4 linked regions of the Homo sapiens genome follow. The protein of the gene in region 2 purifies or fractionates together with the protein of the main gene of each other region. This does not show direct contact. Each region holds a gene or a part of one and is shown on either strand. Other genes may lie near its edges.

Region 1 (5,819 bases), on a different chromosome or scaffold from region 2:
TCACAGTGGTATGAACATTCTCATGTGTTTCCTGGTATACACGTGTCAGGAATTTCTCCTCTGTGCAAACATCAGAAATGAGGTTGCTGGGCAATGATTTCTAAATGTTTGATTTCACATGACAATGGTGAATTGATATTCCCAACAGCAATATATAAGAGACCACGTAGATCCACATCCTCTCCAAAATGATCAGATTTCTTCATTTATGCCACTACAATAGACGTAAAATGGCATCTCACTGTGGTCCTAATTTGCATTTCCCTAATCACTTATCAGGTGGAACATCTCTTTGAATGTTTATGGACCTTTATGTTAAGGTATCTTCGTATCTTTGTTTTTCCACTTCTATGAAATGTCCCTTTCATGTCTCTCATCCAGCTTTCCATAGGGCTATTTGTCCTTTTCACATTAGTGTTCTTTAGATATTCTTGATACTAAATCGCCTGCTGGTTATATTTGTTGGAAATATGTTCTCCCCAGTTTGTAATGTCGTCTCACTTTTTTTTTTTTTCTGAGATGAAGTCTCACTCTGCTGCCCAGGCTGGAATGCAGTGGTGCGATCTTGGCTCACTGCAACTTCCGCCTCCCCAGTTCAAGCGATTCTCCTGCCTCAACCTCCTGAGTAGCTGGAACTACAGGCGCGCAAACACCATGCCCGGCTAATTTTTTTTTTTTTATTTTTTTAGTAGAGACGGGCTTTCACCATATTGGACAGGCTGGTCTTGAATTCCTGACCTCGTGATCCGCCTGCCTCAGGCTCCCAAAGTGCTGGGATTACAGGTGTGAGCCACCGCGCTTGGCCATCTTCTCACTTTTTTTCAGGGCATCTTTTGACGAAAACAAAGTTCTTAATTTCAATAAAGCAAATTTGTACAATCTTTCCTCTGACAGTGCTTTTTGTGCTATAAGAAATATTTCCTAAACTCAAGGTTTGAAAAATATTTATCTATTGATAAATCAAAATAATATCTACAAATTTCAAAGCTTAATTTTTGACATTTAAGCCTTTAATCTATTTGGAATTGATTGTTGCCTCTGGTGTGTAAGGATCTAATTTTACTTTTTCCTCAAAAGGATAACTTTTTTTTTTTTTTGGAGATAGCATCTTGCACTGTCGCCCAGGCTGGGTTGCCATGTGGCACGAACTCACTGCAGCCTCCAATTCCTGGGCTCAAGCAATCCTACCACTTCAGCCTCCCAAGTAGCTGAGACTACAGGCGTGTGTGCGTGTGTGTGTGTGTACAGGGTCTTGCGACGTTGCCCAGGCTGGTCTTGAACTCCTGATTGTAAGCAATCCTGCTTCAGCCTCCTGAAGTGCAGATGCTACAGGGCTGAGCTACCATATCTGGCCAGGATAACCATTTTTTAAGTTACATTAATATCATGAGGATGGCAATTCTCCCCCAAATGTATCTACAGATTCTGTGAAATGCTCTTTGAAATCCCAAATAGTGCCCCCCAACACACGGAACTACTAAATTGAATCTAAAATCTATAGAGAGTAAAGGGCCAAGAATAGCCAAGATACTTCAGAAGAAAAGAGTAAGGAGAATGGAACCTACCCCAAGCATATATTAAGATTATTATGCTATAATAATCTGTACAAACTGACTACAGGATGGGAAAGAATAGCATTATAAAGTACTTAAGGATCATGTTAATGGTATCCACAGCTAAAAGCAAAATGCTACAATTTCATGAATCCATGTGATCTGGTGAACATGTTGGCCACAGGGTCTCTCCAATGGACAATCCCAGTTACAGTGCACAGAAATCCATTCCAACTGCTCCACAAAACAGTTATGCATGTCAGTGCAACAAGCACAATGACATCAGACGATATATGTCATAAACGGGCAGAAGACAGTGATGGCAAAAGGGAAGGGAACTTTTCAGAATAATCCTTGGGAAAAGGCTGTGACTCCCTTGGTGACCTCACATATATATACTCCACTTTTTTTTTTTTTTTTTTTTTTTTTTGAGACAGAGTTTCACTCTTGTTGCCTAGTCTGGAGTGTAATGGCACGATCTCGGCTCACCACAACCTCTGCTTCCCAGGTTCAAGTGATTCTCCTGCCTCAGCCTCCTGAGTAGCTGGGATTACAGGTATGCGCCACCACGCCCAGCAAATTTTGTATTTTTAGTAGAGACGGGGTTTCTCCATGTTGGTAAGGCTGGTCTCGAACTCCCGACCTCAGGTGATCCGCCTGCCTCAGCCTCCCAAAGTGCTGGGATTATACGCCCGGCCTATATCTACCTTTTAAGTGAAATATGTGTTGCTTCAAGAAATCAAGCTTTAGAACATTTTCTGGAAACAATACACATTTTGTCTTTCAAATTTTTGGCACAAATCTGTATAAAAGAGAGATTACTCACTAGGCAAGTCTTCAATGTGTCACATCCTGAAATGAACACAGTCATTACTGCTGGTGCTTAGCAATAACCTTATCCACAATCAAAACAATAAAACCAAAAGTCACAAACAAAAACACCCTAGACCCCTGCTACTTCAAGTGTGATCCAAGGTCTGGCAGCATCATCACTGTTGCCCGGGCATTTGTTAAAATGCAGATCCTCAGGCCCCAACCAAGGCCTAGTGAATCAGAATGTGCATTTTAACCACAAGTTCAATGATCGGTGTGAGTCTGAGAACAACCACCCCAGATCACTGTTTGTTCTCTCTTCTAACCAATTCATGGCTGTCTGTCATTGTCACATCACTGGGTTGGGTAGCTAACCTTCGACACTGCTTTTTCTGGTTTTTACTCTTTTCTCCATTTTTTCTTTTCCCTTTTCTGTTCTTGTCTTTCTTCTTTTTCCGCCATTTCTTGCATGATTCTCCCCATGTGAAAGGCACCAAGGGGGACTGGCTTCCACAGCCAATGGAAGCATTCCTTTCCTGAAGCCATCAATCCAACCACGCTGTGTTTTCGGCCATCTTTGCATTTGTGACTGCTCTGGGACATTTTCACTGATGCACAGGGCGTCCTGTTGCTACAAATAGTGAAAGGTGCCAAGCTGCTGAATGCCAGCTAACTGAGGTATACCTGGACCACTTCATAAACTAAGGGAAAGTAACTGTCATTTTTTTTTTTTTTGAGTCAGAGTCTCACTCTGTCGTCCAGGCTGGAGTGCAGTGGCGCAATCTCAGTTCACTGCAAGCTCCGCCTCCCGGGTTCACGCCATTCTCCTGCCTCAGCCTCCCGAGTAGCTGGGACTACATGCACCCGCCACCACACCCGGCTAATTTTTTTTTGTATTTTTAGTAAAGACGGGGTTTCACCGTGTTAGCCAGGATGGTCTTGATCTCCTGACCTCGTGATCCACCCACCTCGGCCTCCCAAAGTGCTGGGATTACAGGCGTGAGCCACTATGCCTGGCCTGTAACTGTCATTCTTGAGGCAATAAACTAACAGAATTCAGTTTTTTTATTTTTTATTTTTTTGAGATGGAGTCTCGCTCCGTTGCCCAGGCTGGAGTGCAGTGGCACGATCTCGGCTCACTGCAAGCTCTGCCTCCCGGGTTCATGCCATTCTCCTGCCTCAGCCTCCCGAGTAGCTGGGACTACAGGCGCCTGCCACCATGCCAGGCTAATTTTTTTTTTGTATTTTTAGTAGAGACAGGGTTTCACCGTGTTAGCCAGGATGGTCTCGATCTCCTGACCTCGTGATCCGCCCACCTTGGCCTCCCAAAGTGCTGGGATTACAGGCGTGAGCCACCGCGCCCAGCCTCAGAATTCATTTTTTTAGAGCTGATCATTGATTTAAAAAAAAGTAATGGCTTATGATATGGAATTAACTGTTTTAACAGATGAAGATGCATATAAATTGTACATGATAATTCACCTAAGTATGTCACAAAAGGCAATAATTTTAGCATTTATATTAGAACCACTTATTCTAAAAGCTTCCCGCAACCATTCCTTTAAAGGGTTCTATGATTTTCCCATTCTTCAATTCAAATAGGATGGCAGGGTTTCCAAGTTGAAACTGCCCTCACGGGCCAGGCACAGTGGCTCATGCCTGTAATGCCAGAACTTTGGGAGGCCAAGGCGGGCGGATCACAAGTTCAGGAGATGGAGAGCATCCTGGCTAACACGGTGAAACCCATCTCTACTAAAAATACAAAAAATTAGCCAGGCGTGGTGGCACGCGCCTGTAGTCCCAACTACTCAGGAGGCTGAGGCAGGAGAATAGCTTGAACCCGGGAGGCGGAGGATGCAGTGACCCAAGATCGCACCACTGAAATCCAGCCTGGGTGACGGAGCGAGACTCCGTCTCAAAAAAAAAAAAAAAAAAGAAAGAAAGAAAGAAAGAAACTCCAAAAAGAGAATTAATGCTACCTGTAATACCTGTAATATAGCTGAGAATGGACGGGCGCGGTGACTCATGCCTGTAATCCCAGCACTTTGGGAGGCCGAGGCGGGCAGATCACGAGGTCAGGAGATCAAGACCATCCTGGCTAACACGGTGAAACCCCATCTCTACTAAAAAATTAAAAAAACTAGCCAGGCGTGGTGGCGAGCACATGTAGTCCCAGCTACTCAGGAGGTTGAGGCAGGAGAATGGCGTGAACCCGGGAGGTGGAGCTTGCAGTCTGCTGAGATCACACCACTGCACTCTAGCCTGGACCACAGGCGAGACTCCGTCTCAAAAAAATAAAATAAAATAATATAGCTGAGAACAAACTCTTTGATAAGGTCACTGTTTCTAGAAAATGGAAAAAAGGATGCTTGACACATAGTAGATGCTAAAGAAGTATTTCTGAGACAAAGTATTGTTTTAGCAGATGATTTCATGTAACTCACAATCTCAATCAAAACAGTCCTCAATCTCTAGAATTCCCTTAGGAAAAGTTTAAGACAGGAACCACTACACCCCAACTGAGTGGCACCTAAGGCATCACAACATAGCAATGGAAAGGCTGACTTAGACTCTAAAACTGAGTTTTAGAAAATCTATGCCACATCTTAGTATTACAATGTTCCCTATATATTACCTCATAAAATGAAACTATACAACCAATAAAAAGCCCCAACAAAACAGATTCTCTTCTTCAATTTCAGAATAAAATATAATTTTACATTTAAGGCCATATCAAATTTGTACTTTAAGAAACTTATCAAGCACACACACATTTTGTTATATTTTATATGGCTCTCACATCCTTGGCTTAATACTCACAAGATCAGCATATTTCTTACAGAGAGCTGCCAGCTTCTCCTCTGGGGTTGAAAGGGTGTTTAGGGCTTGCATCAGTAATAAAACTTCTTTTCCTGATGGTTAACAAGAAAAGAAATAAGTCCCAGAAGAATGAGATCAAATCTAACCTGTAAATTCTACTAACAATTCCCGTGCTCTGACATCCAGAGTAAACTAATTTACACCTATGATTATAAATAAGAGATTTACCAGCTCAATGAAAAAGGCAATTTTTAAATTCTGGATTAGCAGGCCTCGCTCCCCTCCCCATACCCACCCCAAATTTCTTAACTCATTCACTAACACTGCGAGCTATTTATAAGAACTCTTGTTAAAAGCTTATAAATTTCCTTGCCTAATCACTGATGTCCAAGTTAAGACAAAGGGCAAGTTACAAAGGGCATGGAATTTTTTTTAAAGCTTCCTCCTAACCAAGTTCGAATATAGAAGCAAGTTCAAAGGGAGTTTCAGTTGGTACTACACTTTGCCAAAGACACACATAATCACAGGAGAACATATCTTTTCCTACGAACAATTTAAAAACGTGTGCTTTTCTTATGATTTACTAAGTATATTCTGTGTGTTAACTAAGGTTAACTAACCAAAGGATGACAA
Region 2 (5,819 bases):
GCATCGCCGGGGGCACCCTGGGTGCAGCCCCATGCAGGTGGTCGAGTAGCTGTGTCAAGGGATCCCACAGCCCCCAGGGACACGATTTTATGGATGAGGTTTCACCATCCTGAGGAGTCCATGATTTTGCCCAGCGTCACAGAGGGGCTGGTGATGAAGCCCTGACTGCTTAATTCCCTGTCCTAGGTCCCCTTGGAGGGTGGGACACTGGCGGGATACCCTGGGGCCCAGGTTGGCCACACCAAAGGCCCCCCGAGTAGCCCCTTCTAGGGGTCCCCTGGCTGCCCTCTCCCTGCAGCCAGTGCCAGACTCGGGGCGAGGGCGTGACAGGCAAGCCCCATTGGGATCCCTCCTCCTGACTCTGCCACCCCCCAGGGCTCCCCTGCGTGCAGGAGAGGGAGGAGGCTCCGGGTCCCTGGCCACAGGCCTGCGCATGCTGGCCTGGGTGGCCTGGCCGGGTTAGTCTCGTTACTGCCCTGCCGAGGCCAGCCACCACCGGCCCTTGTTAGGGACTGGCTACAGCGGCTGGCCCCAAGGGCCCCTGTGCCCAGTGCGGAGCGAGGACGGCAGGGCTACTCACTGCTTCTGGGCCTGGTCAATGCGGCTCCTGAGCGTGGTGATCTGTGAACAACATGAGTGACTCACTGCGACGACCCGAGGGCCAGGCCTGCGTGTACTGGGTGAAGGCCTGTCTCCACCGCAGGGTGGGCTGGGCTGCGCGACCCAGGGCTGCTGGGCCCCCATGAGGGCTCCTCGGCTCCCTTACTGTCTCCTGGCTCCTTGTGCAGGGGGACACCGTCCCGTGGCCCCTGGGCTCATGCCTGGACTTACTCTCGCCAGCCTGTACTGGCCTGGACTGCCACACACAGCAGCCCGTAGCTGGCCACTTACCTTCAGCCTGCGGCAGGATGTGGGGCGGGGGGTACGGAGCACGGATGGGGCTGGGGAGGGGTTGCAGGTGAGGCCTGCGGACCCCTCCTTCTCAGCTCCAGCTCCCTTCAGCCGCTGAGCTCAGAGCTCCGAACGGCCCTGCTGCTCCTGGGCCAGCCGCTCCCGCCCTCGTGCCTGTGCCCAGGGGCACTCTGTGGCCGCTGCTGGCTTGAGGCGGAGCTCCTGGGAAGGTGGGGGCCCTTCCTCGCTTGCCAACAGGGCAGCGGCCACTGGGAAGCCCCCGGCTGCAGGCACGAGGGGAGAGCGGGGGCAGGAGGAAGGCTCCAGGCCCCCTGCCGCCAGCATCCTGAGCGATCCAGGTTTTTGCCATGCGAGAGGTTCACCTCACCGTGCAACGCACACCCACGGGCCTGGCCCAGGGCGGACCCGGCTACTTACAACTTGGCCAGCATCTGCACTCTGGCCCGGACATTCATGATCTAGAAAGACCAAGATGGTTACAAGGCTGGATGGGCGGCTGGGGCATCGAGGCCCGGCTGTGGGCTAGCTTGGCCTGGTGATGGCCCTCCAGGCTCTGGAGCCCCTGGGGGCCCGCTGTGGCCGCATCTATCCAAAGCCAGTGGGTCCCTGATTCAGCTCTGGGAACACAGCATGGGAAGGACCTGGGTCCTGTGCCGTGAAGCCCGTCTCAGGGCCAGCCCCTCTGGGAGAGCCCCAAGGGTGAGGTCAGGGCTGTCCCTCATGCCTGGACCCCCTGGGGACAGCTCTGGGAGGGAGTGTAATCGCCCTGCCTCTGTCGGAGGGGAGCTCGTGGAAGCTCAGGTGGAACAGGTGGCCTGCCCAGAACCCCCGAGAAGGAGCTCGGATTTGCCCGGCTGGCTTGGACTGGTCGCCCCACACCTGCTGCACCTGGGTAGAGCACAAGCCCCGTGGGCACAGCCGCCCTCCCCTGGGGCCTCTGGCGGTGCTGGAGGGTGGACATCGTGGCCCTGATGGTGATGCTGGAGTGTCTGCATTTGCCCCGAGCACGTGGATCACCCATGGCTGCGCCCCTCACCCCTCGCCCCTGGAGCCCAAACGGGTGTTTGGGAGGGTGGGAAGCAGCTTGGCTTCCACCCTAGCTCCCACATTGTACCCCAGTCCCTGAGGCCGCCCGGGCAGGCTGCCTTCCCCAGTCCCAGCTTTGCCTGCGGTGATAGTGCCTGCATGGGATGGTGGCTCTGCTCCGTCCCAGACGGGCACAGTCCCAGGCCCCTTTTCCCAGCCACAGGGTGCAGTGTGTCACCCCTCTCTGTCTGCCCTGAGGAAGCAGGTGTCCGGGGCCCTGGTGGAAGCCAGAGTCTGGGTTTGTGGAGGAGGCTCTGTCGAAAGGACGCCCCACACCAGACGGACTCGGTGCCCCGGGGCCGAGCTGGGTGATGATGGGGACTTTCTATAAGCTTAAAGGGGTTCCGAAAATGAACCCTGAGTCCACTTGGCCATGGCTGCTCTGCCACGACAGTCCTTTTGGCAGGGGTAACCAAGGCCGCCCAAAGGGGCCAGGTTCATCGCTCAGGGCGCTGCATGGCCAGCCAGGAGGACGGGCTCTGGCCACAGTCCCCAGCAGGAAAGCAGCCTCAGCCAGGGGTCCGTGGCAACAGCCTGTTTGGGCCTCTCAGGGTCCAGGTCCCTGGGGTGGGCAGGTCCAGAGTTTGGTAGGGACGCAGGGAGATGGCTGCTCTGCTGGTGGGTGAAAGCCGCTAGGGCCCCAGGGCCGGAGGTGCCGGGACTCACGTCATATTTCTGGCGTTTCAGCTTCTCCCCAAACTCGAACTTGTCAATCTCCAGCTGGTGCAGGGTCTCCCAGAGCTCCTTGGCCTTGTCCCTGGGGCAGAGGAAGTGGTGAGGCTTCGTTGAATAAGCCCCAAAGGCAGGGCCAGGCCCCTGGAGTCCTCCTGCAGCCACTGGGGAGCACGGTCCTTGGCAGCCTGAGGAGCAGTCGGCAGCTCCTGCAGGGGCCACCCCGTGGGGCTGAGCCCCACAACACCCACCCCTCACCTCAGTTTGTCTTCACCAAGGTGATCGATGTTGAGCGGCTTGCGTCTCTCAGCCAGAATCTTCTTCTTCATTTCCCGGGCTGTCTGCTTCTTGCCTCTCTTCTGGTCAGCCTGCAGCGGACAGGCCCAAAGAGAGGGGCCTGGTCTCAGGAGGGCACAGGGCGTAGCCCACACTGAAGGCTACCACCGTGCTCCCAGCAGCGGCACACACCTTGGCCAGGTAGCTGCTGTAGTTGGCTCCCATGGAAGACAGAGCTTTCTTCTTCTTCAGGTCGTCCTCTGCCCTCCTCTTGGCATCCTCCTCCTCCCTTCTGGCCTTTTCCTCCTGTGGAGACCCCATTCCCAAGATGCTCAGGGATGGAGAGAGGGCTATGCTTTCTGGGCAGGCTTTAGGGACCCACCCTGGGCTTAGAGCTGTCTGGAAGGGCCCACCCTGGGCTTAGAACTATCTGGAAGGAAGCTCCAGGTCTTGGCCAGGATTTGTTTTCTGGCAAGGGGTTCTGCAGGGCGCCGGGGCCTTAGCCAGTGGTTCTGATCATTGGCCAATGACAATGGGAACCCCGGGAGAAGGAAGGCCTCAGCCCCCTGCATTTCTCTGGGCCTGGGGCTCATTCTCTGATGAGGCAGCAGTGCGGATGGTGCCCTCACCGCCAGTCTGTTCTGGCGCTCCCTCTCCTTCTCTGCACGAATCCTCTGCTGCTCCGCTCTCTCTGCACGGCGCTTCTCCTGCAGCCAGAGAAGGGGGTCTGCTCAGCCCTGTCCCCGGCTCCTCCGAGGGAGTCCACCAGCCCCTGCTGCAACCTGAACTGCCCCACTCACGATTCTCTCTTTGAGAGCGACCAGCTCCTCCTCCTCCTTCTTCCGGGCTTCAAAGTGGCTGTCGATGAGGGCCTGGAGCTCCATTAGGTCTTTGTTCTGACGCTTCTTCTGGATGTCCTGTGGGCAGGGGCAGTGGGTGTGAGCCCCACCCCTCTCTCCAACCTCTGCCCTGCCTGGCCTGCCTTGCAGCAAGAGGTCCCTTCCTTTGCCCCAGCAGAGAAGCCCTGACTCCCTTGGCCACCATGAAAATGGCAAGTGGCAAGGAATGTTTTGCCTTCTCCACATTGCCATGGCTGCTATCCTCATAGGGGCCGAGGGTGGCCTGATTCCTGAGCCACACAGCAGGGATGGTGCCCAGCCATAAGGTCCTCAGCATCCTTAGGATGGACTGGCCCTGACTTGGCTCTGTCATCATCCTCAGAGATGCCCTGCATGGGCCTGGCAGAGAGAAGACTGCAGAGTGAGAGAAATTGTTGGATACATAGGTAGGCATGTGAACAGATGAGCTGATGGATGGGTGGATGAGTGAGAGAGGATGGAGACAGATGACTGGGTGGATAGATGGATGATTGGAGAAATGGATGGATGGATGAATGGATGGATAGGTAGATGGGTGGAGGAATGATTATGTGGATTAATGGTAGAGGATGCGTGGATGGTGGGTGAGTGGGTGGGTGGGTGGATGGGAGGATGAATGGGTGAATGGGTGGGTGGGTGGGAGGGTGGATGAGTGGATGGTTATGTGAGTGAGTGGATGATAGATGGATCGATGGATGGATGAGTAGATGAATGAGTGGTATGAATGGATGGATGGATGGGTGGATGGGTGGGTGAGCGAGTAGGTGAGTGGAGAGATGAGTGAGTGGATAGGTAGGTGAGTGTATGAATGGGTGGTTGGGTGGGTGGATGGATGGATGAATGGGTGAGTGGATACGTGGCTGGTTGGATGGATGGAAGTAAGGCAGGATGGATGGATGGATGGATGGATGGATGGGTAGGTGGGTGGTTGGGTGGATGAATGGATGGATAGATGGTTGAGTGGATGGGTGTGTGGGTGGGTGTATGAATGGATAGGTGAATGGGTAGGAGCTTACGTGGGTGGGTGGATGGATGGATAGAAGGATAGATGGAGGAGAAGGGAAGAGAGATGCTTATTCTTAGAGGGGTTTCCTCTGGCCCAGGAATAAGCTATGGTAGAATTGCCCAGACCCAGGAGGCCCCGGCTCTGGCTACTTGGGAGGAAGTGACCTTCTGAGGCCTAGAGCCCAAAAGCTGGGGTGTGGGGAAACCGTGGACATGTTAACCAGAGTCCTGTAAACTTACATCGAAGTCCACTTTCTCCCCTTCTGGGATCTTAGGAGCAGTGAGTCTGAAGAGGAGACAGAGAGGCCCGTGAGCAGAGACCCGGAGACCCACCCCAGAGGGTCAGCCTGGCGCTTTCCCCGCTGGCCCCTGCCAACCCTGGTGCCCTCCTGCTCTGGCCCCCAGCCAAGCATGCCCGCCTAGTGACACGTTTGCCCCAGCTTTATTCTTATGAGGTTTGTAGCCCACCATCCTGAGAGTGGCTTGAGCCCCTCAAGAAGGCTTCCGCTTCCAGCGCCACCGTCTGCCTTTTGGCTTCTGGCCATTGCAATGTCACTGCACCCCAGCTACCAGGGAGGGCACCTCTGTTTCCTCCTCAAACAGATAAACAAATGCAGCCATGTCGGGTGAGAAGCGATGGCCACTGTGGGTGGCGGTGGCCTCCCTGGGCAGGAATGGCTGCTGCGAGCCTGTGCCTTTCCCCAGCCCCTCTTTCATCTTTCTCTCTGGGGGCCCAAAGGAAGGAGGAGAGGGGGCTGGGAAGAAAGCAATCTGAAGGGGAAATGAGGCCCCCTCTCCGGCTGGGTGTGCAGTCCCCTCCTCTCACCAATACATTCCAGATGCAGCAAAGAGTTAAAACAACAACAATTTTTTCCAACAAACCATAGAAGAAAGTGGAACTAAATATCAATCAGAAACTGGAGCAGGAAAGGGTTTCCTAAGCTCAGGAGCACCAGAAGGTGCCTCTAAGGGAAAGAAGGCCAGATGACA
Region 3 (6,562 bases), on a different chromosome or scaffold from region 2:
ACAGAGCGAGACCCATCTCGAATAAATAAATAGCCATTAGAAAAAAAAGAGAGAGAGTAGACTATTAATGTGTTCTTAGGTAAGACAAATACGAAATTAAGAAGTGAGTCACTTTTCGCGTATGTCTAATAAAATCTAATTTTCTTCCTTTCCAACTCTGTTGATTAATTTAATTGCTGAGTGTACAGGGTTGTTCTTTTTCAGGTTCACTTCTCTATCTTTTTGGCTAGTTGCTATTGCTGCATGGTGGCTGTGCTGGGTTGAATAGTGCCCACCAAAAATTTATGTCCATTTGGAATCTGTGAATATGATCTTATTTGGGAATAGGGTGTTTGCAGACATGATGGAGTTAAGATAAGGTCTTTCTTGATTAGGATGGACCCTAATCCAATGGCTGGTGCCCTTATCAGGAGAGGGAAATTTGACACACACGCAAGGGAAAATTCCATGTGAAGACAGAGGCAGGGATTAGAGTGATATGTCTATAAGCCAAGGAATGTCAAGGATTCCAGCAACTTTAAGAAACTGACAGAGAGGCATTGAACAGATTTTCCCTGAGACCCTCCAGGAGAAACTAACTTTGGTGACATCTTGAGGCACTTCTTGCCTCCATCACTGTGAGAGAACACATTTCTGTTGCTTTAAGCCACCTAGTCTGTGTAATGCACGATGGCACCCTGAATAAAATAATAGTGACTTCATGGGTATACATGATCCCTATAGCATCTAGGTATCACGTTCATTAAGAAGACTAAAGTCGTATTTCTGAAATCATTCTTTTATTTTGCACACACATAGCTGCTATTTACTGAACACTGGAAATTCATGAATGCGTTACATATTTAAACTTTCATAGAAGGCTCAGATCAACAAAGCAAAACTTCTACAGATAATAAGTAGTTGTGTATGCTTGTCACTCTTGGGCCCATCAGCACCTGTTCCCTATCATATTGCTGAACTCTGCAAACTCCAGAAAGGAAGGTTTCTTTTCCAAACTTCAGAGAAGCTGCAGATCAAGAATTTGGGCCGTTGCATCTGATTAGAAACTCTCTTCTTCCAGTGTGAGAACGTTGGATTGAAAGCGGCATAATATAAAAAGAGATGGTTGTCTGTCAGGGAGAGGTCAGATCTAAAAAAAAAAAAAAAGAAAAAAAAAGGAAGGGATGAAAAATTCTTTCTTTGTTGTTATGGGTTGAATTGTGTGAATTGTGTCCCTCCCAAAACCTAAAAACCGTAGACTTAAGTCCTAACCTCCAGTACCTCAGGGAGCGTTTGTATTTAAAGATAGGGGCCATTAAAGAGGTGGTTAAGGTAAAATGGGGCTGTTTGGGTGGGACTTCATCCAGTGTGAATGGTATCCTAACAAAAAGAGATGAGGACACAGACCCACGCAGAGGAATGACAGAGAGAAGGCTGCCATCTATGAGTCAAGGAGAGAGTCCTCAGAAGACACCAATCCTGCTGACACCTTGATCTTGGAATTTCAGTCTCCAGAATTGTGAGAAAATATATTTCTGCTGTTTAAGCCACCCATTCTGTGGTATTTTGCTATGGCAGCCCCAGCAAGCTAATACAGTAGTCCTATGCAGCTTATCTGCAGGATCAAGATATTGTTTTGAGCTTTAGCGCCTGTATGCATCTGTATATACGCTGTACATCTGTCTGTGTAAATACGCATGGATGGATGTCTAAATGGGTACTCTTCTGTTAACATTGTTTATCTCTGTGTGGTGGGATTATGGATGAAGTTTTAAAATTCTTTGTATTTTTCTGTTGTGTTTGAATTTTTCAAATGATTTGTATGTCTTATTTGTAGAAAGACCAAAAAAATCACTTTAAAAAGAAAAAAAAAAGGACCTCCTCTCAATAGTAACTTTTTTTGGCTTAAGTGTCCCCTTTTCTCCTCTGGGACAGATCTGAAATCTTAAACAAGCAGAAAACCTCCAGCCCAGAACAGCAGACACCAAAACAACTTTGTTGTGAACCAACATTTCTTGCTGCCTGGGCGCTTGTAGAAAAAGCCTTATTTGTTTGGTGGTATTCGTTATCAAAGTGCTGTTTATCAGGAAATCTGCTTTGTTCCTATTTTTCTTACATAGATAATATGAAAAAAACTCAGAAACTCTCCTTTTAAACTCAAAGTGCACAAGTAAGACTAGAATCCCATGTAAATGAACTCCTTACTGGTGTGCAAAATTAATGAAAGCTGCTACATTTAAGGATAGAGATCAGTAATAAGCCTTATTTCCACAAGAAAAAGTTTGGTCTTTTAAAAGCAATACTTGGAGTTGATTAAATCTGTTATTATTAATTAGATTTTCTCCTCTGTGATGAACAAAAAACAATTAAAGGCTTTGAGAGCTGTGAGAAAGACTTTAAAGACTATTTGACTCAAACTTTCCTCAGTGCACAACACTCCCCACCCTAACTTGACTGTAGGAGAAAAAACTGAGAACAAGACGGGGTGTGGCGACACCTCCACCATGACATAGCACCTCGGCCACTAACAGCTGCAGCAAATGCTTGGTTCATTAGGAAACGTTACCCGGCAGAATTCCAAAGGCCTCGGTCTAACAGTGAGGTGGTTCCATCACAAGGAGATTCTCAACCTTGGCTGCACATTCAAATCACTTGGGGGAGAGTTTTAAAAGTCCACATTCCTGCGCTACTATGTTGGAGACATAGATGGAACGGTCTGGCGAGGGGCCTGGGCATCAGCATTTTTAGAGCTCCTTGTAGGTGATTCCTATGCAACTCCAGGGTCAAGTGCCACTCCGGATGAACTACCTCATCTACACTGCTCTGCAACAGACAGCCTCAAACCCACCCCCAAACACACGCTGAGACTCTGATGTGGTCGCAGCAGCTGTGAAAGTGCTAAGTGCCTCTCACGTAGTCTCTGTATATAAGTATATACACGTAGTCTCTGTATATGAGTAAAGGAAAGGGTATTACCTGTAGGGGTCTTTCACCTGTCACCCTCGGAAGAAGCTGATGAGAAAGGCGCACAGGGCCTGGAAGGGTTTCCAACAATGTTCCCAGGCCTTCTTCTTTGCTTCCTCATTCCCTCCGGGCCTGGGTCCAGGCTGGGTAGGTTTGGCTGTGGGTCGGGTGGTGGGTTTGGCTTTTCCCAGCTCTTCCATCGAGTCCTTTCCCAGCTGTGTTGCTTCTGTGAGTTTCACTGTGGCCTTGGGCCTCAGAGATGGCGTCCCAGCCTCAGGCTGCTGGTTGGGCTCTGGGCTGCCCTTGAGGCTGGAAGTCACCTGCTGCATATGGGCCTGGGGTCCAGCCTCCCTGCACACGGATGGCCTAAGCACCGGGGCCCCCTGGCACGCATGGTGAAGGCGCCTCAGCTCCTGCAGGGCTTGATTCCAGTAAGGTTTGGGGTCAGCAGCGAAAGCCTGGCACATGCTGGGCTGCCCCCTGTACTCACACCAGTAGGTCTGGTCTGTGTTGCGGCAGTCGACACGAAGCCAGACTTCTCCAGCACCTTGCCCCAAGCTGCTGGGACGCATAGTGCAGGAATCTCTCCCTCCAGTCTGGAAATGGAATTCCTCCCCAGTGCTTCCTTGCTTTTGCCTCGGGGCCTGACCCAAAGTCCCCAGGCAGGACAAGGTCACCAGCAGGAGGCAGGGGACGAACTTCATGGCGATACTCCGATAAACTTGCTTGCAACTCTGCACCAGGAGAGAGAACACAAGTGGGACGAGTCACCCTTTAAAGGGTGCTGCACAAAAGACTCTTTCTCTGCAAGGGTGGGGAGGATGTTTTGCAGCAAATGAGAAACATGCCCACAGACCTTAGACACGTAACACTTGGCAAGGGCAGAGCAGCCACCAGGGGCCGCCCACCACAAGCAAAGGGAATGGTTTTCCTGAGTGCCTCAGAGAGATCTGCCCCAGCCCTGTCACGCACAAAGCGCCACACACAGCTTTGGGGCTGAGGGTTTTACAGTTTTCCAACCACAGGGTGCTTGCTCTAAAATTGGCCCTTGTACGGGAACAGCCTTCTTTGTCAACATTTGGTATATGCCAAGGTGTGGCAGTGGTATTCTGGAAAGTGAGGTTTGCAGCTGGGAGTCTGGGCTGCCTCGAGGCTCCCTCCTGCTCCCTGGAATCCCCATCTTGGGGGACCATGGGTTTAGTTAATCCAAAGGAAGCCAGAATTTTATGAGCCTAAGTGTTATGAGATGGCCTAGCAAATGCAAAAAAGACTATGTGAGGTTGTGTGAGGATGTGTGTGCCAGAGGGACACAGAGACACTCCCCCTCCCACCCACCGAGCTGAGAGTCACCTGGTGTGGCCTCTGTGGGGCTGTCCCGCCATCACCGTGGCCACAGGCCACAGTGCTGCAATGTTCACTTCCCTTGTTATTGCATGCCTTACAATTGCACCAACTGAATGATGACGAGGAAGGCATGCAAATATATGTTCACAGTGGGATTCAGTCTATTTTAGACCATGAATTCTATTTCAAATTCAATTGAAATAACACAGTTTTAATTATATCACAGGAAAATATGATTTTAAATATTATTATTATTGTTCTACAATAGAAAAAAAATAAATTGAAAATAACTTTTGATTCTGTGTCAAGAATCATAGTTTGGTATGGTCATAACTGTCTTTTGATGACCCTTCCAGAGGGCACTGTGGAGTGGACTAAAGGTGGCAATTTGCTGTTAGGAATAGGGTTGACGGATGTTGGGGGACTAGTTTGAATGTGAGGGATTTATCTTGGCGATCCCACGTAGGGTAGTTGGTACCTGGCACAGCCTTCCTTCCACCTGGATATCCTGAGTCCTGAGAAGACCTAGTAGGGCTGGAACTAAAGCCAGGCTGAGCTTCGGCAGCCACTGTGTGTGTAGCAGTGAGAGCCTTCCAGAAGAGGGCATCACCCCAGGTGGGGAGCAGAGGAAGCTTCCAAGAAGTGGTGCCAAACCTTCAAGACAAGTCAGTCAATTTGTCAGGTTGAGAAAGGGTAAAGGGCAGGTGTTTTTTTTGTTTGTTTGTTTGTTTGTTTGTTTTGGCCTCATTCTGTCACCTAGACCGGATTGCACTGGTGTAATTATAGCTCACTGTAGCCTCCAACTCCTGGGCTCAATTACTTCTCCTGCCTCAGCCTCTCAAGTAACTGGGACTACAGGCATGGGCTGCCACACCCAGCTAAATTTTAAATTTAAAATTTTTAGGGACAGGGTCTCACTCTGTTGTCCAGGCCGATCTCACACTCCAGGCCTCAAGCAATCCTCCTGCTTCCTTGTCCTCTGGAGTCACTGGAATTACAGATGTGAACCACCACAACCAGCTAAAGGTAGGTTTTTTTTTTTTTTCACACAGTCTTACTTTGCCACCCAGGCTGGAGTGCAGTGGCACAATCTTGGCTCACTGCAACCTCCACCTCCCAGGTTCAAGCAATTGTCCTGCCTCAGCCACCTGAGTAGTTGGGATTACAGGCGCCTACCACCATGCCAGGCTAATTTTTGTGTTTTTAGTAGAGATGGGGTTTCACGACGTTGGCCAGGCTGGCCTCAAACTCCTAACAAGTGATCCGCCCACTTCAGCCTCCCTAAGTGCTGAGATTACAGGCACGAGCCACTGCGCCTGGCCAAGGGCAGATTCTTAAGGCAGGATAATGCTTCCTGTAAAGGAGTGATCCTGGAGTGCAGGTTTATGGACTGCTGAAATGTCAAGGGCAAGGAGGCAGTGGTGAGAATCAGGCTGGAGAGGTGACTTAGGGTGGGGTCCGCAGCCCCCGTACCAATCCACAGGGCCAGTTCTAAGACAGAGGCTTGCCCTTTGTGTGCTTCCAACTCAGGAGCCCCTGGAGTAAACAGCACTCCAACCCAGGCTCCATGTCGTGGCCACAGGAAGGCAGGTGTTCAGCTCCAACCTCCTTTCCCCCACCCACCACAGTGTTGCAGGGAACAGCTTGCTAGACCCATCTAGACACCCTGAGGTTATGGCCAGCCCTTTTCAATGCCCTAGTGAGGCTGAGTTTACCCTGCAATGGGAACTTATCATAAGAGCTCTAATCACGCTCTTCCTCTTTTCGCTTTTGGGACAAGCCAAACCTCAAGACCTTTGCACTAGTGCCCACTGCCTGAAAATCTTTTCCTTGAACATCGCATGGCTGCCTTCTCCCTGCCACCTTCACAGAGGCCTTCCCTCGCTATACAATGTAAAAGAGCTCTTCTGTTCCTCTATCACTTCATCCTGCTTTAATCCTCTTGAAGGCAGTGATTTCTCTCTTTTTTTTTGAGACGGAGTTTTGCTCTGTCACCCAGGCTGGAGTGCAATGGCGTGAACTTGGCTCACTGCAACCTCCGCCTCCTGGGTTCAAGCAATTCTCCTGTCTCAGCCTCCCGAGTAGCTGGGACTATAGGCACATGCCACCACATCTGGCTAATTTTTGTATTTTTAGTAGAGACAAGGTTTCACCATATTGGTCAGGCTGGTCTTGAACTCCTGACCTCGGATTATCCACCTGCCTTGGCCTCCCAAAGTGCTGGGATTACAGGTGTGAGCCACCATGCTCAGCCCAATTTCTCTTCTTTCTTATT
Region 4 (5,819 bases), on a different chromosome or scaffold from region 2:
ATACTGACAGTCTTCACAGACTTAGAAGAAACGATTTCAAAATTCTTATGGAACCAAAAGAGACCATATAGCCAAGACAATCCTAAGCAAAAAGAACAAAGCTGAGGCATCACGCTACCCGACTTCAAGCTATACTACAGGGCTACAGTAGCCAAGACAGCATGGTACTGGTATAAGAACAAACACATAGAATGATGGAACAGAATAGAGAACTCAGAAATAAGACCACACACTTACAACCGTCTGATTTTTAACAAACCTGACAAAAACAAGCAATGAGGAAAGGACTCCTTATTTAACAAATGGTGCTGAAAGAACTGGTTAGCTATATGCAGAAAACTGAAACTGGGCCCCTTCCTAACACCTTCGACAAAAATTAACTCAAGATGGATTAAAGACTTAAATGTAAAACTCTAAACCATAAAAACCCTCGAAGAAAATCTAGGCAATACCATTCAGGACATAGGCACAGGCAAAGATTTCATGATAAAAACGCCAAAAGCAATTGCAGCAAAAGCAAAAATTGACAAATGGGATCTAATTAAACTAAAGTTTCTGCACAGCAAAAGAAACAACTATCATCAGAGGAAACAGACAACCTACAGAATGGGAGAAAATTTTTGCAATCTATCCATCTGACAAAGGTCTAATATCCAGAGTATACAAGGAACTTAAGCAAATTTACAAGAAAAAACAACCCATTAAAAAGTGGGCAAAGGACACGAACAGACACTTTTCAAAAGATGTACATGTGGCCAACAAACATATGAAAAAAAGCTCAACGTCACTGATCATTACTGGAATGCAATTCAAAACCACAATGAGATCAGAATTGCTATTATTAAAAAGTCAAAAAACAACATGCTGGTGAGGTTGTAGAGAAAAAGGAACACTTTTACACTACTGTGTAATTAAATTACACTAGTGTAAATTAATTCAACCACCATGGGAGACAGCATGGTGATTCTTCAAAGACCTGGAGGCAGAAATACCATTTCTGGGTAAATACCCAAAGGAATATAAATCATTCTATTATAAAGATAAGTACATTTGTATGTTCAGTGCAGCATTATTCACAATAGTAAAGACATGGAATCAACCCAAATGCCCATCAATGGTAGGCTAGATAAAGAAAATATGGTACATATACACCATGGGATACTATGCAGCCATAAAAAGGAATTAGATCATGTCCTTTGCAGGGACATGGCTGAAGTTGGAAGCCATTATCCTCAGCAAACTAATGCAGGAATGGAAAACCAAACACCGCATGTTCTCACTTATAAGTGGGAGCTGAATGATGAGAACACATGGACACAGACAGGGGAACAACACACACTGGGGCCTACTGGGGGTGTGTGGTAGAGGGTAGGGAGAACATCAGGAAGAATAGCTAATGGACACTGGGCTTGATAGATACATGATGTCATGATCTGTGCAGCAAACCACCATGGCACACCTTTACCTATGCAACAAAACTGCACATCTTGCACATGTACCCCTGAACTTAAAATAAAAGTTGAAGGAAAAAAATGCATTATGCCACTTCAATGTGATATACTATTTTGCAGTCATTAATATAAAATACTAAAAATATTTTTGATATCTCTGTAATGAAAATAACAAAATATAAAATAACAGTTTGGGTGAAATAATTTAAAATATGTAAACATGTAGAAAAAATATAACATTAAAAAGTGTTAGCATGAGAAAAATGAGATTATGGGTGGCTATTATTTCTTTTACAATTAACTTTATTTACGTTAAACTATCATTTAAATTCAAGTGGAAAAGAAAAATTTCTTCCCAACAGCAAGATTAATAAAAAATGCACAAATAAACATCAAGTTACCTTATAAATAAATTTCAAAAACAGTAGTATACCTTAGTATTTCCTAATTAGTCTTAGTACATCAAAATAGAGCTGCTACTATATAAATCTTTATAATTTCATTATTTGGTTTAGTAAAATAATTTCATTATTTGGTAAAAAAAAAAAATTCATTTCAAATAGATTTTTATTTCCTTAATACATTTACCTCTAAAGGATGAAGGTTCCTGAAGAGCATTACTTGCCAATCTAGCTGGTCCACAGAATACCAATATAGTGACAGGCGTCACTGCTGAACAACATCTAATATTAGCTATTCTATGGGCTCTGGTCATTTCATCATAAATAAGCCAATCTGTGGGCAGTGCCTTAATTGCTGCAGCTTGACCATTGGCTGGAGGAATCTATTAAGAAAATAAATTTTAAAAATTGTTAATTGTGTTTATCACCTAGTTTATTGGAAATACTTTTAAAATGTAAAGTCTCTCAATGAAATAGATGATGTATATTAGTACGTAAGCAAAAATTAAAACAAGTCATCGCTCATGTAGTTCGTACAAAAGTACTCATTACTTAACATGTTACCTTTTCCAACTCTAAAATTTATAAGTTTTGTTCCAATATTTAATGATATATATATATATATATATATAACTAATTAATTTCTTAAAGCAGGCAGGTATTTGGAGCATTTTTCATTGATAGTGAACTACCTAAATTAGTTTCACCTCAAAACCCAACAGCATTCAAAATCTTTTACCTTTTTATATTGAGGCTGACTGAGAACTGAAGCAGGATGAAATCGTACTTTTTTCTCCTTTGGCCCTGTCAACACTAGATTCTCTCTGTCCACGTGGACTAAATTAGGATACATGCCTGCCACCAATGCAGCTTTAACGACAGCCCAATTCTCAGAGTTTGTGTTAACGTCCCGAATGTCACCACCACCTCGTGCTCTAACAAAACCTAGAGGGGAAAAAAACCACACCAATTTTTCTATTGTGCAAAAGATACTTTTGTGTATTTTTTCCAAAAACTTGTACAACTCATGTAAATTTTGTGATATTCAAATTTCACGATAATTAATAGAATCTCCTCTGGAAAGTTGTTTAAAATATGAACCACCCCTCCCCACCCTAAAACAGATACAGAACCAACATTCTAGGGAAGTGTAGATCTGCTCAGGTTAGATTAAGTATAAGAATCACTTGGGGCTTAAATTTTTTTAGATCCACATTCTTGCAATAAAGTTCTTCATAATCTGCTGCCAGAAACAAACTAAATTCATAGCTGGAAACCCAAACCATTCTTCTGACTGTTATTAACAACATTTTGGTTATGATAGATACTAATTCTGTAGATGAAGTCAAGTAAATATATGGTAATTTTTGCTTGAGTTTCAAAAGTCCTTCATATTTCCTTATGTTCAAGTCAACTCTTAAGTCCTCTGGTTCATTCCTTATATTACTCTGGCACTTCAGCTAACCCATGAATCCAGGCTCTGGTACTATTCTTCTGACTACCACATCAATTTTTTTTTGCTACTCAAAAAGGCAATTCTAAAAGGTAATAGCAATACTAGCATCCTCTTCAAAAAAAAAAAAAAAAAAAGGTGACTTCAAGTATTACTAGCTGTTTTTGTGTTCCAAAAATATGAAGAGCAGCATTCATATCAATTTTTTAAAATTTCTATTTCACAGAACTAAATAAGTATTCATTAATGGTGATAAAAGAAAATAACTATAAGATCTAAATTGATCTCTGCCAACCAATACAAATTGTTCATTGCCAACAGTATCACAAGCATATAGATTCTGTCCCTAGATTTCTCAAATACACCTCCTGCAATAGCATTTTTTCATCAACAAGCAAAAGTTGAAGACATATCGAAGTCTACAAATCATGCATGAATATAAGATACACAACATGATAATGTCATAAAAATAATAGATGGCATCAGTTAACATAAGAAATACTATGAAATATGGGCAGGGTACTCTCAGTAACTTAAATAGGCTCTTTGAGGGAAAAACTTTACCTGATGCTCTAAGTTGACCAAGCAACTGTGTTCTCATGCCTATGATTATTTCCATAGTAGCCTGTGAAAGAAAATTCTTTTCACAAAAGGCTCGCTCCCACCCATCACTTCGTGCTTTTTGCCAGGCCTATAAAAAGAGAATAATTGCATAACAAGACACATTTACTAATCGCTTCTTAGTGAGGCAACAAGTAACTACAAATCACTACACGAATTCCTCGACGTGAATTTGCCTTATTCTAATTTTCTATAAAATCTAAGACTTTATGATCAAATAATATTTATCATTAATTTATACTCAAATGCTAAAAAAGCCATTGAGTTTATAAAATCGCAAAGAGAACTAAGTGTCAAGTAGCCTAAATGACTAACAATGTAAAAATATTTGCCTTCTCAGATGCATCTGCTAATTTTACTCTCTACAAAAGTATAGGTTTTCAACTAAGACTTCTTAACACTTATATCTAAGAATCGTGCCACTCTTGTCCTCCAAAAAATAATCTCTATGTCAACCCTGGACTCTACCTAAGAATGGAAAGTAGGATTTCTATAAATCATCTATATGCAGTATAAAAAGCTCTCCTCTGTGAATAGGTTCTCTTGCTTTGGTATATATATAACTAAAAGACTGAAGCAATAATTTATCCTCTCTGCTTTTGAAGGAGCTGGGGGAAAAGCAAAGAACAGATAGAAATTCTACTCTAAATCTCCCTCTACTTCTCACTCAACTATCTACTATAATATATGGTATTTAATATACCCAATTAATAACAATGAGTTATCCATTGATCAATACTCACAAAAGAGCTTGTAATTATTTTTGAAAATTATATGTGGTGAAAAAATCTTCTGTGTCTGAAAAAGAGTACTTTCTGCATAAACAAAGTTAGATTTTTAAAAAATATGGCTGGGCATGGTGGCTCACACATGGTAATCCCAGCACTTTGGGAGGCCAAAGCAGGCAGATCACTTGAGGTCAGAAGTTCGAGACCAGCCTGGCCCACATGGTGAAACCCTGTCTCTACTAAAAACACAAAAATTAGCTGGGCATGGTGGTGGGTGCCTGTAACCCCAGCTACTCGGGAGGCTGAGGCAGGAGAACTGCTTGAACCTGGGAGGCTGAGGTTGCAATGAGCCAAGACTGTGCCACTGCACTCCAGCCTGGGTGACAGAGCAAGACTGTCTCAAAAAACAACAACAAAAAAATGTATAGACACAGTCGACATTCAAGAAGATTTGAGAATAAATACAATGCCTATGTTTTCAAGAAATAACATATTCTTCCCCACATATCTGAAATTCTAAATTACATTTAATTTGTCTTCCCCAGGATCCTATTTTCCCCATCTTTTCTTTTCCATTTGCCTCTTTCCTCAACTTGCCATTACCATTATCTTAAAAGGTTTTTAAGTGATTTTTGTATTTTGCTTTACAAAATTAAGTTCTCAGCATAGTGTCTTGAGCAAACAAGAAAAAGGCTGAACTCTAAGAAAAATCGATAGATATTACATCAATATAATTTTCTTATAAGCTTTATTCTATGTACTTTAAATAGTATACAGTATTTCTTAACTGAAATTTTAGAACATTCCTTGCCCAAGACATGATTTAAAGAAACCTGGTAATAGAAGCATAAACACAAATAAATATATATACAAATACACACATATATTCCTATAAGGAGAAAATGGGAAAAAAGAGCAAAACTGTTTTAATTTTAACATAACAACAGCAAGAAGATATTTTTCAGGACTATTAATGTGACTTCATAATGAAACAAAATTAATGCAATTTTAAAATTTATAAATTATTTTTAAAATTCCTACATTTGCCCCAGAAACGTGTTTACCCAGCAACGTCTTCAGAAATAAAATGACAGTAATAGTACCTGGAATGCTCTGAGAAGTGCCATATGGTCACTGAAAGCTCCTGCAGTAAAACGTTTCCTAC

What was found.
Region 1: the proteins of TNNT3 (region 2) and TXLNG purify together in Homo sapiens (affinity purification with mass spectrometry; one large-scale study listed by BioGRID and IntAct). This does not show direct contact.
Region 3: the proteins of TNNT3 (region 2) and FGFBP2 purify together in Homo sapiens (co-immunoprecipitation; one large-scale study listed by IntAct). This does not show direct contact.
Region 4: the proteins of TNNT3 (region 2) and YTHDC2 purify together in Homo sapiens (affinity purification with mass spectrometry; one large-scale study listed by BioGRID and IntAct). This does not show direct contact.

The regions. Positions count from the first base shown.
Region 1 is NC_000023.11:16,819,623-16,825,441, reverse strand, and holds part of TXLNG (gamma-taxilin), read right to left. Parts: intron 5,279-5,819; coding exon 5,187-5,278; intron 1-5,186. UniProt on the Homo sapiens protein: May be involved in intracellular vesicle traffic. Inhibits ATF4-mediated transcription, possibly by dimerizing with ATF4 to form inactive dimers that cannot bind DNA. May be involved in regulating bone mass density through an ATF4-dependent pathway.
Region 2 is NC_000011.10:1,931,765-1,937,583, reverse strand, and holds part of TNNT3 (troponin T, fast skeletal muscle), read right to left. Parts: intron 5,116-5,819; coding exon 5,070-5,115; intron 3,864-5,069; coding exon 3,747-3,863; intron 3,654-3,746; coding exon 3,576-3,653; intron 3,253-3,575; coding exon 3,139-3,252; intron 3,039-3,138; coding exon 2,929-3,038; intron 2,756-2,928; coding exon 2,665-2,755; intron 1,371-2,664; coding exon of another isoform or gene 1,330-1,370; intron 622-1,329; coding exon 581-621; intron 1-580. UniProt on the Homo sapiens protein: Troponin T is the tropomyosin-binding subunit of troponin, the thin filament regulatory complex which confers calcium-sensitivity to striated muscle actomyosin ATPase activity.
Region 3 is NC_000004.12:15,959,483-15,966,044, forward strand, and holds FGFBP2 (fibroblast growth factor-binding protein 2 precursor), read right to left. Parts: upstream 3,694-6,562; 5' UTR 3,648-3,693; coding exon 2,976-3,647; 3' UTR 2,956-2,975; intron 1,130-2,955; 3' UTR 763-1,129; downstream 1-762.
Region 4 is NC_000005.10:113,564,070-113,569,888, reverse strand, and holds part of YTHDC2 (3'-5' RNA helicase YTHDC2), read right to left. Parts: coding exon 5,758-5,819; intron 3,997-5,757; coding exon 3,870-3,996; intron 2,798-3,869; coding exon 2,592-2,797; intron 2,236-2,591; coding exon 2,040-2,235; intron 1-2,039. UniProt on the Homo sapiens protein: 3'-5' RNA helicase that plays a key role in the male and female germline by promoting transition from mitotic to meiotic divisions in stem cells.